Regions from separate parts of the Homo sapiens genome. Here region 1 is linked to region 2. The links come from fine-mapping of genetic effects on gene expression. A gene starts in region 2. The other region holds a variant in brackets. All regions are shown on one strand. Distances are between the middles of the regions.

Region 1 (5,363 bases), 36 kb after region 2:
TCAAAAAATAAAATAAAATAAAATAATAAAAAAATAGAAAAGGAAAGAAAAAGCGCCTCTGCCCGGCCGCCCCTACTGGGAAGTGAGGAGCCCCTCTGCCCGGCCAGCCGCCCCGTCCGGGAGGGAGGTGGGGGGGTCGGCCCCCCGCCCGGCCAGCCGCCCCGTCCGGGAGGTGAGGGGCGCCTCTGCCCGGCCGCCCCTACTGGGAAGTGAGGAGCCCCTCTGCCCGGCCAGCCGCCCCGTCCGGGAGGGAGGTGGGGGGGGTCAGCCCCCCTGCCCGGCCAGCCGCCCCGTCCGGGAGGTGAGGGGCGCCTCTGCCCGGCCGCCCCTACTGGGAAGTGAGGAGCCCCTCTGCCCGGCCACCACCCCGTCTGGGAGGTGTGCCTAACAGCTCATTGAGAACGGGCCAGGATGACAATGGCGGCTTTGTGGAATGGAAAGGCGGGAAAGGTGGGGAAAAGATTGAGAAATCGGATGGTTGCCGTGTCTGTGTAGAAAGAAGTAGACATGGGAGACTTTTCATTTTGTTCTGCACTAAGAAAAATTCCTCTGCCTTGGGATCCTGTTGATCTGTGACCTTACCCCCAACCCTGTGCTCTCTGAAACATGTGCTGTGTCCACTCAGGGTTAAATGGATTAAGGGCGGTGCAAGATGTGCTTTGTTAAACAGATGCTTGAAGGCAGCATGCTCGTTAAGAGTCATCACCCATCCCTAATCTCAAGTAATCAGGGACACAAACACTGCGGAAGGCCGCAGAGTCCTCTGCCTAGGAAAACCAGAGACCTTTGTTCACTTGTTTATCTGCTGACCTTCCCTCCACTATTGTCCCATGACCCTGCCAAATCCCCCTCTGTGAGAAACACCCAAGAATTATCAATAAAAAAATAAATTAAAAAAAAAAAAAAAGAAAAAAAAAAGAAATTGGAGAGCCAGCAAACCGAGAAGATGGAGACCTGGAGACCTAGTGTCCTGAACCAGTATCTTACATTTTCCATGCTGGCAGGAGGGTTTTCATGGGATGGGGGATGTGGAGAAACTATGTGCAGGGCTTGGGATCAGGAGGGGACCGAGGACCACACACATCTGGGTGCCAGCGAGGGTGGGAGGGACCGAGGACCACACACATCTGGGTGCCAGCGAGGGTCTGAGGAGGCTGTGGCCACTTCTCTGTCCTTGGTCAGGTCACAGTGCTCCTGTAAATCTTTTTTTTTTTTTTTGAGATGGAGTCTCGCTCTGTCGCCCAGGCTGGAGTGCAGTGGTGCAATCTTGGCTCACTGCAACCTCCGCCTCCCAGGTTCACGCCATTTTCCTGCCTCAGCCTCCCAAGTAGCTGGGACTACAGGCGCCTGCCACCATGCCCGGCTAATTTTTTTTTTGTATTTTTTGTAGAGTCAGGGTTTCACCATGTTAGCCGGGATGGTCTCGATCTCCTGACCTCATGATGTGCCCACCTTGGCCTCCCAAAGTGCTGGGATTACAGGCGTGAGCCACCATGCCCGGCCCTTGCTCCTGTAAATCTTTAACAAAACCTAGTTAGTGGGTTTCATTTTTATTTTTTTATTTTTTTTTCAGGGTCTCACTCTGTCACCCAGGCTGGAGTTCAGTGGCGTGACCTCGGCTCACTGCAAGCTCCGCCTCTTGGGTTCAAGCGATTCTCCTGCCTCAGCCTCCCGAATAGCTGGGATTACAGGCATGCGCCACCATACCAGCTAATTGTTGTATTTTTAGTAGAGAGTGTTTCTCCATGTTGGCCAGGCTGGTCTTGAATGCCTGACCTCAGGTGACCCACCCACCTTGGCCTCCCTCAGTACTGGGATTACAGGCGTGAGCCACCGCACCGGTCCCCACATATATATTTTTTGAGACAGGGTCTCTCTCTGTTGCCCAGACTGGAGTGCAGGGGTGCAATCATGGCTCACTGCAGCCTAAACCTCCTGGGCTCAAGCCATCCTACCACCTCAGCCTCCAAAGTGGATGGGACCACAGGCGTGTGCCACGTCTGGCCAGGTTTAAAAAATTTTTTTAGAGACGAGGTCTCACTATGTTGCCACGCTGATCTCAAACAGCTGGGCTCGAGCAATCCTCCTGCCTCCTCCCAAAGTGCTGGGATTACGGGCGTGAGCCACCACACCTGGCTTTAAGTAGAATTTATTTTTATGTATGTATTTATTTATTTATTTATTTGAGATGGAGTCTTGCTTTGTCGCCCAGGCTGGAGTGCAATGGCACAATCTCGGCTCACTGCAACCTCTGTCTCCTGGCTTCAAGTGATTTTCCTGCCTCAGCCTCCGGAGTAGCTGGGATTACAGGCACCTGCCACCACGCCTGGCTAATTTTTGTATTTTTAGTAGAGACGGGATTTCACCATGTTGGCCAGACTGATCTTGAACTCTTGACCTCGTGACTCACCTGCCTCAGCCTCCTAAAGTGCTGGGATTACAGGCATGAGCCACTGTGCCCAGCCTGATATTTCTAGTTTTATTTTACCAATAAGTTAAAAACTATTTTTGGCCTGGCATGGTGGCTCACGCCTGTAATCCCAGCACTTTGGGAGGCTGAGGCGGGCAAATCATGAGATCAGGAGTTCAAGATCAGCCTGGCCAACATAGTGAAACCCTATCTCTACCAAAAATACAAAAATTAACCAGGTGTGGTGGCACGCACCTGTAGTCCCAGCTACTTGGGAGGCTGAGGCAGGAGAATCGCTTGAACCCAGGAGGCAGAGGTTGCGGTGAGCCAAGGCGGCAGCATTGCACTCCAGCCTGGGTGACAGAGCAAGACTCTGTCTCAAAAACAAACAAACAAATAAAAAAACATTTTATTTACCAAAGATTATAAAATTCATGTGAACCTGATAGACATTTGGACTTAACTTATGAGTATCCATTTACTTATAGGCCAATTTGGTAACATGCTACATACAACATATAACAATACCTGTACATATACATAAACACATTTAAACATATATACATACAAACACACACACACACAAAGATCCAAACCTTTTTTTTTCTTTTTTTTGAGACGGCATCTGGCTCTGTTGCCCAGGCTGGAGTGCAGTGGCATGATCTCAGCTCACTGCAACCTCTGCCTCCTGGGTTCAAGTGATTCTCCTGCCTCAGCCTCCCGAGTAGCTGGGATTACAGGCACCTGCCACCATATCTGGCTAGTTTTTGTATTTTTAGTAAAGACAGAGTTTCACCAAGTTGGCCAGGCTGGTCTTGAACTCCTGACCTCAGATGATCCTCCCGCCTTGGCCTCCCAAAGTGCGCTGGGATTACAGGCATGAGC[T/C]AACGCGCCCGGCCTTTTTTTTTTTTTTTTTTTTTTTTTGAGAGAGTTTTGCTCTTGTTGCGCAGGCTGCAGTACAATGGCATGATTTTGGCTCACCACAACCTCCGCCTCCTGGGTTCAAGCGATTCTCCTGCCTCAGCCTCCTGAGTAGCTGGGATTACAGGCATGCGCCACCATGCCCGGCTAATTTTGTATTTTTAGTAGAGACAGGGTTTCTCCATGTTGGTCAGGCTGGTCTTGAACTCCCAACCTCAGGTGATCCACCCGCCTTGGCCTCCCTAAGTGCTGGGATATTACAGCCATGAGCCACTGCGCCCGGCCTAATTTTTCTGTTTTTAGTAGAGACTGGGTTTCACCATGTTGGCCAGGCTGGTCTTGGACTCCTGACCTCAAGTGATCCACCTGCCTCAGCCTCCCAAAGTGCTGGGATTACAGGTGTGATCCACCATGCTCAGCCTGTTCTTTATTTTCAAGATTATTATTATTATTTTGAGATGGAGTTTTGCTCTTGTCGCCCAGGCTGGAGTGCAATGGTGCGATCTTGGCTCACTGCAACCTCTGCCTCCAGGGTTCAAGCAATTCTCCTGCCTCAGCCTCCCAAGTAGCTGGATTACAGGTGCCCGCCACCACGCCCGGCTAATTTTTGTGTTTTTAGTAGAGATGGGGTTTCACCATGTTGGCCAGGCTGGTCTTGAACTCCTGACCTCAGGTGATTCACCTGCCTCAGCCTCCCGAAGTGCTGGGATTACAGGCATCAGCCACCGCACCCGGCCTCTTTTCAAGATTATTTTGTTTATTTTTTTGACATTTGTGTTTCCAAATGAATTTTAAAAATCATCTAGCCAATTTCCACGGAAAGCCTGCTGGATTTTGACTGTGATTGCATTGAATCTGTAGATGAATTTGGGGAGCACTTATAACACTATCAAGTCTTCTAGGCAGTGAACATGATACGTATCTCTTTTGATTCAGATTTAAAAAAGAATTTCTCGGCCAGGTGCAGGGGCTCACACCTGTAATCCCAGCACTTTGGGAGGCTGAGGAGGGTGGATCACAAGGTCAGGAGATCGAGACCATCCTGGCTAACACGATGAAACCCCGTCTCTACAAAAAATACAAAAAATTAGCCGGGCGTGGTGGCGGGCGACTGCAGTCCCAGCTACTCAGGAGGCTGAGGCAGGAGAATCGCTTGAACCCGCGAGGCGGAGGTTCCAGTGAGCCGAGATCAGGCCACTGCACTCCAGCCTGGGCGACAGAGCGAGACTCCATCTGAAAAAAAAAAAAAAAAAAAAAGTTTCTGGCAATGTTCTATAGTTCTCATTGGAGAGATCTTTCATTACACACTTTCATTAATTTTTTTGTTAAGCATTTTATGTTTTGCCGTATGCTATTTTAGTGGTATTTTCTGAATGTTGACAGGATATAGAATCACAATTGGCTTTTGTGCATTGACTTTGCGCCCTGCAAGGCTCGACATTCACATATTCGTCCTAGCAAAGTGCCTGGTAGGCAGCTCATTCCTCCTTCCTCTGGCAAAGGAGAGGCCCCAGATCTCAGGCCTGGTCTGCGGTGGGAAGAGCCTTGCACCGGAGCTGCCGGGTCTGCAACCCTCCGAGGTTGGATTTCCAGTCCCTGGGCTCAGTGCCTGGGAGGGGAGACGGACTACCAGGGAACATGGCGGGGCCCCTGTTGGGGACACAAGAGCTGGCCGGTGCCACGCTCTGGGATTCCAGGAGGGTGTCCTCGTGACGCAGTTCCTTTCTGGAGGAGGATGAGTGTGCCAACTGAAAAACTACCCGGGAACATGAGCCTGTGTTTGTGGCGCACCAGCCAGATTTTACGAGTTCCGAAAAAAAAAAAAAAAAAAAAAAAAGAGGCTACACCTTGCAGAAGTTAGGGAAACACGAACCACACAGACAAATCTCAACAGCATGGCGACGAGTTTCAGGGGCAGGACAAAAGAAGCGCGTGCCACGTGATGCCTTTAGAGAAAGCTCTGGAACAGGCGCCGTGAATCCACGGTGCTAGAAGTCGGATGGGTGGTGATCTGGGGCAGGAGGAATTGACT
Region 2 (5,363 bases):
CATGGGTGGACATTGTGAAGACAAGGGTTCAGGGGCCGAGGGTGGGAACCGGGAGACAGGTTCGAGTGGGGACTGTCACCTGGGTGGGGCTCCCAGCCTTCTCTCTCTCCATCCTCCAACTACAGAGGGCGGTGGCCGCAGGGCATGGCAGACTTTGTGGTTCCAGAGCGAAAGCCCCTTCACGCAGAAAGCTGACTTCGACCAAGAGCAAAAGGTTGGGGGCTGGGCAGGAAGGGGGCGGGGAGTCCACGCAGGCAGGGGGCTGGGGGTTCCAGTGGGGCCAAAGGGGGGCTGGCTGAGGGTCCGTGGGGAGCACCCTGCCCTGCAGCCCGTCTCCTACCCCCTCGCAGTGGCCCTCGCCAGCCCACTACCAGCTGCTCAGCCGGCCCGCCTTCCCCGCCTTCAGCTTCAGAGGCTGCCACTCCGCTTCCAAGACACCTGAAGGCCACACCCACCTAGGGCTGCCTGGGGCTAGGGGGCTGGGCCTCAGGGTGCAGCCCCAGTCCCTGCTTCAGGCCTCTTTGCAGGCACCTGGCAAGAGATGCCCTGGCCCCAACACCTACAATATCCTTCCTGGGAGCCGCCTGCAGAGCCCCCGCTCGCCGGCCTTCTCGATGAGCCGCTCCCCTGCGTTCACCTCCTGGCTCAGCACCTGTAAGGAGGCCTGGAGAGAAGAGGGCTAGGGATGGGGCATGGGTGGGCAATGTGAGGACAAGGGTTCAGGGGCCGGGGGTGGGAACTGGGAGCCAGGTTTGAGTTGGGGCTGCTACCTGGGTGGGGCTCCCAGCCTTCTCTTTCGGCAGCCCGAACCCCTGGCCCAGCCGCCTACCACGTGGAGGACTGCAACTCACGCTTCCCTTCGGCGCCTGGCGTGGTCATCCAGGGTGTACGCAGACCCAAGCGCCACGACACAGGCCCCTTCTGCACGCTCTAGAGCCAGCTGGGCACAACCTGCTTGGCCCGGCCACCGAGTGGAACCATGGCCTCCCCCGGGGCTTTCCCAGGCCTCCCCTGGGACTTGGGGCCCCAGCCTGGCCTTCTGACCCTCTGGGCACCCCGATGCACCCTTCTGGCTGGCCAACCCTTCTATGGGCTGTGGACAAGGCTGGCCCAGCCTGGATCCCCCATCTGCCCATCTCCCCGCTACACTGAGATGCTGTTGGTTTTCCCGAGCTCTGTGGTGTGCAGTTGTCTGTCCTTCACCCGGGGGCGGTCCTAGAGATATGGCTGCCGCTGGGTCATTTCCGGCTTTCCCTGTTGAGGGGTCTCCATTCAGCTGCCCCTGAAAGGTGCTCTCTTCTCTAGGGTGGCAGCCTGTGACTGACCCTGAGCTCTAGCCTGGAGCGAGATGGGAGGTGGGCTCTGTGGGACACCCCCACCCAGCCGTGTCACTCAGGGGCCTGGTCTAGCTGCTGTCCACCTGAGGGTCAGCTGCTTGCCGAGCCAGGGAACTGGGAAGGAGGCGTCAAATGCCCTGAGCCGCCACCTCCAGGTGGGGTCGGCCTGGCCAGACCTCAGGAAGGGCCCAGGGATCTGCTCACCAGGGCCCAGCCCCACTTCCCCTAGGCCTTGAGCTGAAGACCTGGCTGGGCTTAGTCACCTGTGCCCTGAACACTCTGGCCCAGGGCCCTGCAGACTCCACTCCCGGGGCCTTCACCTGCTGGGACCCTGCACTGCCCCTGCCTGCAACTTCGCCTGGCTGGGGCCTCCCTTGTCATCACTGGCCTGCCCTCCTACCCAGGGTCGGGCCCCAAGGCTGCCACCTTGCAGGAGCCTTACCTGCGGTGCCGTCACCCGCACCTCCCCAGGTCCTCCCCAGACCCAGGACCCAGACCAGGCCCAGAGCTCAACCCCTTCAAAAAGGCTCTGGGCAGCTGCTTCTGTGGCCTCAGCACCACCCCCTTTCTCAGAGAGGAATCCCAGGCTCAGGATTGTGTGTGTGCTGTGACCCTTGTCCTCCTCTGCCACCGAACCAGCTGGGGGTTGGATCAAGGCACTGGAACCCTCGCCCTAGGGCTGACCAACTTGGCCAGCGGCAAGAGAGCTGTGGTAGCCATGGCCTTGGGAGCTCGGCCCGGCTTGTGGGAACAGGAGCTCTGCTCACGGCTGCACCACCAGGCACCCCTGGTGAGACCCAAAGCTAGGAGTGGGAGCGGCAGGAAAGATGGAGCGATCTCCTCCAGCTGGGCTGAGGAGGGAGGGCTTCCTGGAGGAGGTGGTGGAGGAAGAAGCCTTCAAGGAAGAGCAAGAGTTTGCTGGGCAGCGGGAAAGAAATTTCTAGAGAAAATTTCAGCAGCGGAGACCGAAAAGAGAGAGGGTGTGTGTAGGGGGCTTGGCGCGGCACAGCCTGCGGGAGGGCGGCGGGCTGGAGAGGCGGGGAGGCCCGGGGAGCCCACCCGCCTGGGATAAGAAGGGACACTGTGGAACCTGGACTCTCCTTCACGGCTCCGCGGAGCTCGGTGGGCGCCACAGCCTCCCGGTGCCTGGGAGGGCGGCCGTCGCTCGCGCTCCCGCTGCGGGCCCGGTCTCCGCCAGGCCCCGGCCCCCTGAAGGCGCTCAGATCTCAGTTTTGGCGACAGCGCCGGGGTGGGCTTCGTGCCCGTTTCACGCGGAGGAACCCACGCTCAGGAGGGAGTCTGCGCCTGTGTCCGGCCCCTGCGGGGCAGAGGGGCGGGGAGCTCAACCCCCGGCAAAACGTCCCCGCTGCGCGTGGCTGCCGCGAGATCTGCAAGAGCGTTTTCCACGCTTATGTACACGAAATTCACTCGGCTGCGACGACGTCCGTTCCCGGAGCAGACGGACCCTGAGTCCGCCCCCCACGCCCTCACCCGCCCTCTTCTGCCAGAAAGCCCGGGCGCGGGCGGGACCGGGTGGGCGCATGCGCGCTGGGCTGGCTGGGCGGGGTCTCTCGCGCCGGGTGAGGGCGCTGCTCCCAGGAACCTGCGCGCGGCCCCGGCGGCGTTTCCCGGGGGCCGGTTGGCGGGCGGACCTGGGCGGTGCGGGGCGGAAGTGGGCGGCTGCGGGACGCGCGCGGAGTCGCGCGGCGGGCGGGACCTGGCCGAGCTGGAGGGCGCCGGGGAGCGGGGCTCGGGCGGTCCCCGAGGCCCGGCGGAGCGGGCTTCTGGGGTGTCTGCGGCGGCGCCGGGGGAACGGGCTGGGGATGGGGCGCCTAGCCGGGCGGTGGCCGGGGCCTCGGCCATGTTCGCGGGGCTGCAGGACCTGGGCGTGGCCAACGGCGAGGACCTGAAGGAGACCCTGACCAACTGCACGGAGCCGCTCAAGGCCATCGAGCAGTTCCAGGTGGGGCGGCCCCCGGGGCGGGGGGAGCCCAGTTGGAGGGCCGGGCCGCCTGCTCGGGAGTCGGGCCTGGCGGAGGCGCCGGAAGTTTTCCGGCTTTCTGCTGGTGGCTGAGTCCTGTTCTGGGGGTGGAGTCCGGAGCCAGCACCCCTTTGCTGGACGGCTGGGTGGCTTTCGGTGGCTGCGGTTACCGCCAGCACGGCTGGGAACACCTGGGTGCGTGCCTCCCTGTGCTCTCAGGACCTCGGGGTGCCCGGGCGCACTGGGCTGCGTTTGAGGTTTCTCTTGGCTTCCTCAGACAGAGAATGGTGTGCTGCTGCCATCTCTTCAGTCAGCCCTCCCCTTCTTGGACCTGCACGGGACGCCGCGGCTGGAGTTCCACCAGTCGGTATTCGATGAGCTGCGGGACAAGCTGCTGGAGCGAGTGTCAGCCATCGCTTCGGAGGGGAAGGCTGAGGAAAGGTGGGTCAGCGGGAGGGGTGGGCAGGTGAGATGTGCAGCCGGCCTCTCAGCCTTGGATCGACTCAGGGGCATTTATTGTCCTTTTGGCTCCACATCCTTGCTCCCAGAGGTGGCCTGGGCCTGTGTCTGAGTGACCCCTTGACCCATGTGTCCTGGGCGTGGAGGCTTGTCCTGGTAGCTGTTATCTGTGTAGGGACAGGCAGGTAGCTGCTGCGATTTGGCGCATCGCTGCACCATCAATCCTGTGAGTTGTTCCAGGTACAAGAAGCTGGAAGACCTTCTGGAGAAGAGCTTTTCTCTGGTGAAGATGCCGTCCCTGCAGCCCGTGGTGATGTGCGTCATGAAGCACCTGCCCAAGGTAGGGCCCTAACCCTAACCCTGATGGCGTGGACCGTCCGCCCACTCTCATGCCCTTGGTTAGTGGAAGTTCCGGTGGCCGCCTAGCTCCGGGAGCTTCCTGTGCTGCCTGCCCAAGTGCTGTCCATGGTGAGCTCTGTGCTGACTTCTCCCACATGAGCCGCGTGGAGACCGAACCTTAGCACTGGAGTTAGGGTGTGGGGCCCCTCCTGGGAAAGAGCTGTTGGTATTTAGCATGTCTGTCTGACATGCTGGGGCCGGGGAACCAGTCATAGGTGCCCTGTGGGGTGGAGCTTAGCTCGAGGTGGTCTCTGCGGGGCTGAGGCCTCTTGGCTTGTCTTGAAGGAGACCCAGGGACACAGGTGCCACTCACAGGCAGCCTGTGGTGTCATGTAGGTTCCGGAGAAAAAACTGAAGCTGGTTATGGCTGACAAGGAGCTGTATCGAGCCTGCGCCGTGGAGGTGAAGCGGCAGATCTGGCAAGACAACCAGGCCCTCTTCGGGGACGAGGTTTCCCCACTCCTGAAGCAGTACATCCTGGAGAAGGAGAGCGCTCTCTTCAGTACAGAGCTCTCTGTCCTGCACAACTTTTTCAGTCCTTCCCCCAAGACCAGGCGCCAGGGCGAGGTGAGGGGACAGGCCGTGTGCGGGGTGGGGCACCTCTTGGGGATGCCACGGCTAGCGCCTTCAGCTGCCTGGGGATCAGCACTCTGCTGCCCTGTGAATGATCGGGTGGTTCTGCTTCTTGGCTGGGTGGTGGGGGAGGGCTGGCTTGTACACATGCTGGAAAGAAAGTTGGTTGTTTTTCTGTTTGCATTTTACTTTTCGTTAAAGTGATATATGGACAACATTTAAAATCTGCGGAAAGCCCGCTCATGTGAAGTTAATCCCCCCTCCCCTACTTTTTTTCTTTTTCTTTGAGACGGAGTCTCGCTCTGTTGCCCAGGCTGGAGTGCAGTGGTGTGATCTCGGCTCACTGCAAGCTCCCGGGTTCACTCCATTCTCCTGCCTCAGTCTCCCGAGTAGCTGGGACTACAGGCGCCCGCCACCATGCCTGGCTAATTTTTTTTCTTTTTCTTTTTTTTTTTTTTTGAGACGGAGTTTCGCTATTGTTGCCCAGGCTGGAGTGCAATGGCGTGATCTCGGCTCACTGCGACCTCCGCCTCCCAGGTTCAAGCAATTCTCCTGCCTCAGCCTCCCGAGTAGCTGGGATTACAGGCATGCATCACCACGCCCGGCTAATTTTG

Alleles and levels. Alleles are on the strand shown, and positions count from the first base shown. SD is a standard deviation of normalised expression in the study named.
As copies of C replace T in region 1, the expression in monocytes after LPS of the gene that starts at base 3,016 in region 2 goes up (moderate effect, 0.71 SD a copy in Kim-Hellmuth 2017).

The links. PIP is the estimated chance that this variant, and not a neighbour inherited with it, causes the effect.
Region 1: its variant is fine-mapped to the expression of NELFB in monocytes after LPS (Kim-Hellmuth 2017, PIP 0.95).

The regions. Positions count from the first base shown.
Region 1 is chr9:137,288,266-137,293,628 of GRCh38, forward strand. No RefSeq gene overlaps it. Among named protein-coding and RNA genes, the nearest start is that of NRARP, 11 kb to the right of the region's middle. The variant T/C (reference allele first, on the strand shown) is at 3,296.
Region 2 is chr9:137,252,312-137,257,674 of GRCh38, forward strand. NELFB (negative elongation factor complex member B) reads left to right here and starts at 3,016. Exons shown (of 13, transcript NM_015456.5): 1 at 3,016-3,300; 2 at 3,596-3,759; 3 at 4,018-4,117; 4 at 4,513-4,743. The coding sequence starts at 3,055. It overlaps STPG3 (sperm-tail PG-rich repeat containing 3), which reads left to right. Exons shown (of 6, transcript NM_001004353.4): 4 at 126-214; 5 at 351-654; 6 at 804-1,172. The coding sequence ends at 934. It overlaps STPG3-AS1 (STPG3 antisense RNA 1), which reads right to left and starts at 1,186. Exons shown (of 4, transcript NR_038389.1): 1 at 852-1,186; 2 at 564-664; 3 at 80-195. It also overlaps a transcript of CIMIP2A not described here. RefSeq lists silencers at 2,384-2,563, 2,754-3,123, 3,134-3,313, 3,354-3,413 and enhancers at 2,424-3,371, 3,372-4,319.